Homo sapiens: one gene and its partner. The protein of the gene in region 1 purifies or fractionates together with the protein of each later gene. This does not show direct contact. Each region holds a gene or a part of one and is shown on either strand. Other genes may lie near its edges.

Region 1 (3,825 bases):
CTTTCCTCCCTCCAGGAACTTCTTTCCTCCTTTTCTCTTCCCTTGTTCCCGCCACCTTCCCTTGCCTGGCTGGCCTCATCCTTCACTGCTACAAGTGCCAACTAACTCAAATGGTAGGCAGACTTGCATGGCTTGACCTGAGTGCATGATGGAAGACAGAGACCAAATGGAAGAATGAGGCCCTTGTCCCTCTCTGAAGAGCAATATTCTGGGTGGCCCTTGACTGCAAAAAGAAGTTTTCTTCTTCACATGCCATGTTCCTGCCAGCCCTCTGTCCCATATGAGTGCTTCCCAGAGTCCTGGAGAAGGAAAGTGCCAAGAACAAAGAGGTTCCAAGCCAGCTCAGCCTCATAGTTTTGCTTCACAGCAGACAGCACTCATCTCCAAGTGGATAGGGAGGTAGTTCAACCCCAACAAGAAGGGGAAAGACATGCCGCCTTCCTTCACTGGTTGTCCCCTTGTCACCTAGAAGGCTGGTTCCCAAGGCCTCTGAAAAGGGGTATTTCTATCACAAGAGATTCTGGGCTCTGCCTACAAGTTGCTGGTTTGGGCCTCTATTCAGTCAGACCCCAGCTCTGTGTCTGAATTTACTGGCATACCCATACAATAACCCAAAGAGTTTGGTTCTATGCCTTAACTCTCCCTGCTCATTTCGCACAGGTGACTAAGGAGCAGGACCTTTGGACAACTCAGCAGGAACACTTAGAGTCTTCATCCTACTTGGCAAACCTAGGGCCAGAGATAATGGTGATACTACCTAGACCATTCAGATGCTGAGATCATAACTGAGCCCACAGTTCTCTGTAAAAAGTCTTGAGTTCTCCTTCACCCAAAAATGTTATAGGAGGCCACGAGAACAAAATACTAATTTCCTGGTTGGGATAAAACGTTTCCACAGGAATCTGGAATAAGCTTGACAAAGTGCCCAAGTCACAAGAGAACAGATGTTTCTTGAGACCAAGGATTTCAGAGGAGTATTATGGTGGAGCGCAGGAGTGGGGTCTATTATAAAATGCCACCACTATATACTCATATTGCACATGGGATACACCCGGGGATGACATATTGGAGCATATATAGAACAGATACGTGCAGGTAGCACCCCCTATTGGTATACTATGTTTGATACCTCAAACTGTTACTTGAGGTCTATGAAACTGTTAACTGGTCAGAAATGGGAAAAGCCATTCCATAATAGCATCCTTTAAGGAGAAGCTTCAGGAGACATTTCTTGTCCGCTAAACCTGGAGGCAAAGCAAAGCAGCTCCTCTTTTTTATATATTAGGAAGTTTTTCTTTGTTGCAGTTCCCACGGATTAAGGTAATTTCTGCAAAACAATGAAGTCAAACCAGTGATGAGAAAGTACAACCAGGAGCACATCAGGCCTTACGTGGAGTTCTTGACAAAACTGTCCTTTGAATAAAAAGTTAAGGTTCACACTAGATGACCTTTTATAACCAGCCTAAAGCAAGGCTTTGTCTATGAGCCACATTCATGGAACTGGAAGGAGCTGATGCGTTCCAACATCAGGTCTCAGTGGCTGGACTGAGGAGGTTGGAATCTGTCTTTTTCTCGACTATTTCAGAAGCACTTTGCCACCTCTATTGGAAACAATTTTATTCTGGCAGAGCTGGGGTGGTGGGAGGCAACGTGCAGGACCCTTATGGACGCAGAAGTAGCAGGTTGAGGGAACAGCCGCTGCCACAGGTGGTTTACTTGGTGGGGGTGGTGGAAGGACCAAAGCAGAAGTCACCCCATCAGTGCAAGTCTCTCTAGGGAACTCTGCATCCTTCCTTAGCAAGGTTAGAGTGACTCTAGACGCTAAGGTTTGTGTAGGTTGTCCAGCTAGAAGTCTCTGCACCTCGCCCAACTCTTCAGCTGTACGGAGAGTGAGAGAGAACTGGTCCCAAGACCTTCCCTTAGCAGAGTTCAGGGTCTCTCTGCTGAGCTGCAGCTCCTGTGACTATTACCCTTCAAACACCACCCAGGCAACCCTGTGACTCTCGCCCTCCTCCCCATCCTGCATGGTGCGGCTCTTGCCTCCCAGCAGCCTCTACTTTTCATCCTCATCCCCCTCGCTCATGCTGCTGATAGAGGCTGAGGCTGCTTTGGGTGAGGAAGGGGGTGAGGTTTTGAGTGGAAGCCATGAGAAGGTGGGCGATGGGGAGCGGGAAGGGGACCGGCTCCGGGTTGGGCTGCTCACAGGGCTCTGCTTCGGGGATAAGGCCTGCAGCATCCGGCTGCTCCTCTCCTGGAACATCTGCTTCTAAAGATAAATTGGAGAGAAGGCATCTGTTAACTTTGCAATCTGAGGCAGCAGCAAAACAAAAAGGTAAGGCAGGCAGGAGAGCCACTACCCCAAAACTCCTGAGCCCACAAACCTACACTCATACCACATCCCGTGTTGTCCAAGACTATGTATAGTAAGGAACCGAGTGATATTCAGGGGTAGTGACAGAAGATTACAGTCACCACTGGTTCTTTTTTTCTCTTTTTTTTTTTTTTTGAGACAGAGTCTCGCTCTGTCACCCAAGCTGGAGTGCAGTGGCATGATCTTGGCTCACTGCAACCTCAGCCTCCCAGGTTCAAGCAATTCTCCTGCCTCAGCCTCCCAAGTAGCTGGGATTACAGGTGCCCGCCACCATGCCCGGCTAATTTTGTATTTTTAGTAGAAACGGGGTTTCACCATGTTGGTCAGGCTGGTCTTGAACTCCTGACCTCAGGTGATCCACCCACCTCAGCCTCCTAAAGTGCTGGGATTACAGGCGTGAGCCACCATGCCCAGCTACCACTGGTTCTTAACACTCTTTCCTTCTTCCTTTTTTTTCTTCCATCTACAAAATTTAACTGAGTGTCTCTGACTAGCCAGGCAAGTAGTCATGACCTACGGACTGGAGGGGTGGCAGAAAACAAAACCCCTGACCTCATACCCTCACAGATATGAGGAGGAATCACACAATAAACAAAATATGGTATGTCAGATGGATCTGTGGTCTGTGAGAAAAAGAGGGCGAGAGGATAGCAAGTGGGGCTGGGAGCAGGGCAGCTGCGATTGCAAACAGGGTGCTCGGGGAAGGCCCCACTGAGAAAACGCTTCTTGAGTGAAGAACCTGGAAGAGATAAGGGGAGGGACCAGGTGAATGGAAATCAGAGGGCAGCGCACTCCAGACAGAGCACCCCAAGAAAGGAGCATGGAACGCACACCCAGGAAGCGCAGGCAGGGCACCGCGGCTGCCTTGAGGGCTGATAGATGGGGAGGAGCTGAGGGAGGCGGTTGGGAAGAGGTTGCCAGAGAAGGCACAGAGGGCTGTGCCATGGAGGGCCTTGGCAGCCATTGTGAGAACTCTGCCTTTCAGTCTGAGGGGACCCATGCAACAGGTCCCAGGAGAGGAGGAGGCCATCGTGGCAGTATGGAGCGAGCTGGTGGGGAAGGGAGAGGGGGAGGCACTGCGGGAGATCAGGCCAGAGACATATCAGGCGGCAGTTTCACGTACAGTCTCCTCTGAGAAGAGAAACCTCTGGAGAATTCTGAGCAAAGGATTAACAATCTGCTGCTTGTTTTCAAAAGACCATTCTGACTGCTGTGTTGGGAACAGATGGCAGTGAGGCGGGGGCAGGAACAGGGAGCCCACTTATGAGCCCGTTGCAATAAGAATCCAAGGCCAGGCGCGGTGGCTTATGCCTGCAATCCCAGCACTTTTGAAGGCCAAGTCGGGCAGATCATTTGAGGTCAGGAGATCGAGACCATCCTGGCCAACATGGTGAAACCCTTTCTCTACTAAAATACAAAAAATTAGCTGGGCAGGGTGGTGGGCACCTGTAATC
Region 2 (2,813 bases), on another chromosome or scaffold:
CTGTGCAGTGGCTCATGACTGTCATCCCAGCTACTTGGGAGACTGAGCAGGATGAATCCCTTGAGGCTAGGAGTTTGAGGCTGCAGTAAGCTGTGACCATGCCACTGTACTCAAACCTGGGCAGCAGAGCAAGTCCCCATCTTTAAAATTTTTTCCTTTAATTTAAAAAAAAGTAAAGTTTTTATGATTTTTTTAAATTATAATACATTTCTAAGAAAGACATTGCTAGGCTACTGCTATGTCTTTTTCCAGAATTGTTTCTAGTTTTATAAGCTTAGTCTTGTCAAAATAAACATTTTGGTATATGTTTTGGATAGACTTAGAACAACCTAACAGAATCATATCTGTTATTTTTTTGTCTTCCAGAATGTCTACACAAGGAAGTACAGGATTTGGCTTTTCTAGATGTCGTATCCAAACTTCGCAGTCATGAGAACAAAAGTGTTGCCCAGCAGGCCTCTCTCACAGAGCAGAGACTTACTGTGGAAAGCTGAGAACTGCCCGATACACGGCATCATCCCATCTCTAATTTCCCCTCTGTCCTCCATCCAGCGGCTTCTTCCGCTTCATTCTCTACCATACCACTTGTGCATGCATGTGATGTTCTAATACCAATTGAAGAACCGCTGTAGGTACCTCCCTAATAAGATTTCTAAACCTATAGTTAGTGTGATCATGACTTTGTCAAAGGCAAGTCTCCACCCATAACCGTTCTCTTGTATTCCTGTTGCTTGAGCTACATTAAGTAGAATGTGCATGTTGTAGTCCTATGATGATGTAAACTTGGTACTACATAATGACTTGCTCCACACATGCAGTAAACTACATAATGATGTACTGGTAAACTAGAAACAAAGAATGCAGCAGGATCTGTCTAGCTTATTAAAGATGAAACTGAATTGGAAAAATAGCTCCATTTTTTGGTGCTTGGGAAGCACAGTGACCAAAAAAGTTGTATGGCTGCTTATTCATTAGTCTTTCCTACTGATGTCAAATCCATGGTACCTAGAGTTAAATAAAATTCCAATGCTCTTACTCTTTAACTTCTGGTTTCTCCTTTTTCCTTTTTAGACTATTGAAACTGCCACAAACTTGGCAAGACTTTCTGAGGTTTCTGATTCCATATTTAATTGACTATTATCAATAGCCTGATATTGAAAAACATTTGTAGTTTTCAGTGTGAAACTAAGGGGTTGAAGAATCACTATTACAATCCCTATTACAGAGCATTTCGGGTTTTGCTTGTATTTTAGATTCTGATACATACGCTGTTTCACTCAGGAACTACTTCTACCAGTTAATCAGCATTATCCAGCACTTGTCTTTAAAATTCATTTGGCGCTTGTTTGTTTTCAACTGAGGAAATTGAGTATAGTTCATTGAAGAATGGAATTTTTTTTTTTTTTTTTTTTTTTGCTGTTTTTCATCATTCAGCTAGAAAGTGAGAAGTTTTATCTTCCATAGTCCTTTTAAATCTTATGTTAGAACTAGCAGGACGTAGGTGGAAAGATGAAGAAATAAGCTTGTCTAGACTAAAGAAAGGAAAGCAGGTTATAAAAGCCATAGTAGCCAGTCCAGTTCATTCTGCAGATGGCCCCATACCAATCGCTGTTAGAGTTTGCCACCTCCACTTTCCCACTGAGAACTGCAGCAATTTTAAAGGATATGAGAAAGCCAAGACTCAAGAGATGAGAAGACCCCCTTGGCGAAATATAGTGTACTCTTCACTGCCACTGCCACCACCAAATGGGTTTTTAGAGCTTTGAAACACAATCTTTGTAAATTAATCAAAACCTCCCTGTGACCCACCTGCCTTCTCCCCATACCCAAATTTGACCACTACTGGCCTAAAAGGCAAGATGGGCTTCGATATAGAAGGACTGCAAGACAGTAGAAAGGGCTGCCACGGAGGTGACAGTAGCTCCTTCCTCTCCAACATGTGATGCTACACATCTCTGTGGATAATCTAAGTTGGACTTTTGACTCTAAAACAGCTATAATCCAAGAAAGTTAAATTCTAATGGAGGTAAAGAATCTTGACTGATTGTTCCCTTTGATGTCCAAATAAGGGAACTATTGTGAGTACGTATGCTACACTTACTATAAGAATGATACTGTTTGTTGTCTTTCTCCTGGGCTGGATAGTGGACTATATTTTATTACAGGCTTTGAAAGACATCTGTAATGTTGCATATCTGTTCATATTAATAACTTAATAAATAGTATATGAAGCTATAATGGCATCATTTGGTTTGTTTGTATATTTTGTCTCTATTTCCAGCTCCTAGAATAAGGCTTGCTATTGATGTTCAACAAATATTTGTTGACTGAATGAATGAATCCTGCATCCATGAAGTTTCCAGACTGCCTGAACTAATTCCAGAAAGATAGACTGACTGACTGATAGAAAGTTTGAGATTTGATAGTTTGTCTGACTTTAGGGAAAAAATTTTAACAAAAGCATCCTAAAATCGTAAATGTGAGAGAAGTTACCATCTAGGCCAGCTGCCAGCCATCAATTTGCTAATATGCTAGGAACTCCCATCTCCAGCAAAATAAAGTGCAATTCAAAGTACTCATCATTGTACGGAAAGACCAGAAGGCTGTGCCCTTATCACAGGGGCTACCAAATTAGATGGTACACTGATGTGCCATTGCAGTGGATGGGAGAGTCTACAGACTGTACTCTCGCTTATCTCCTGCTACTAAATCTTAGTCCTAGAGGCCACTATTTATTAAGTTAGTTTGCTACCCACTAAGAGTACATTCTAAGGGAGACAACAGGAGGGAAGAACAGCACAACAAAGCTTTAA

What was found.
Region 2: the proteins of PCYT1B (region 1) and RAP1GDS1 purify together in Homo sapiens (co-immunoprecipitation; one large-scale study listed by IntAct). This does not show direct contact.

Annotation. Positions count from the first base shown.
Region 1 is NC_000023.11:24,560,240-24,564,064, forward strand, and holds part of PCYT1B (choline-phosphate cytidylyltransferase B), read right to left. Parts: intron 2,267-3,825; coding exon 2,054-2,266; 3' UTR 1,879-2,053; coding exon of another isoform or gene 1,846-1,878; 3' UTR 1-1,845.
Region 2 is NC_000004.12:98,441,624-98,444,436, forward strand, and holds the end of RAP1GDS1 (rap1 GTPase-GDP dissociation stimulator 1), read left to right. Parts: intron 1-366; coding exon 367-494; 3' UTR 495-2,235; downstream 2,236-2,813. UniProt on the Homo sapiens protein: Acts as a GEF (guanine nucleotide exchange factor) for the Rho family of small GTP-binding proteins (G proteins) that stimulates the dissociation of GDP to enable subsequent binding of GTP.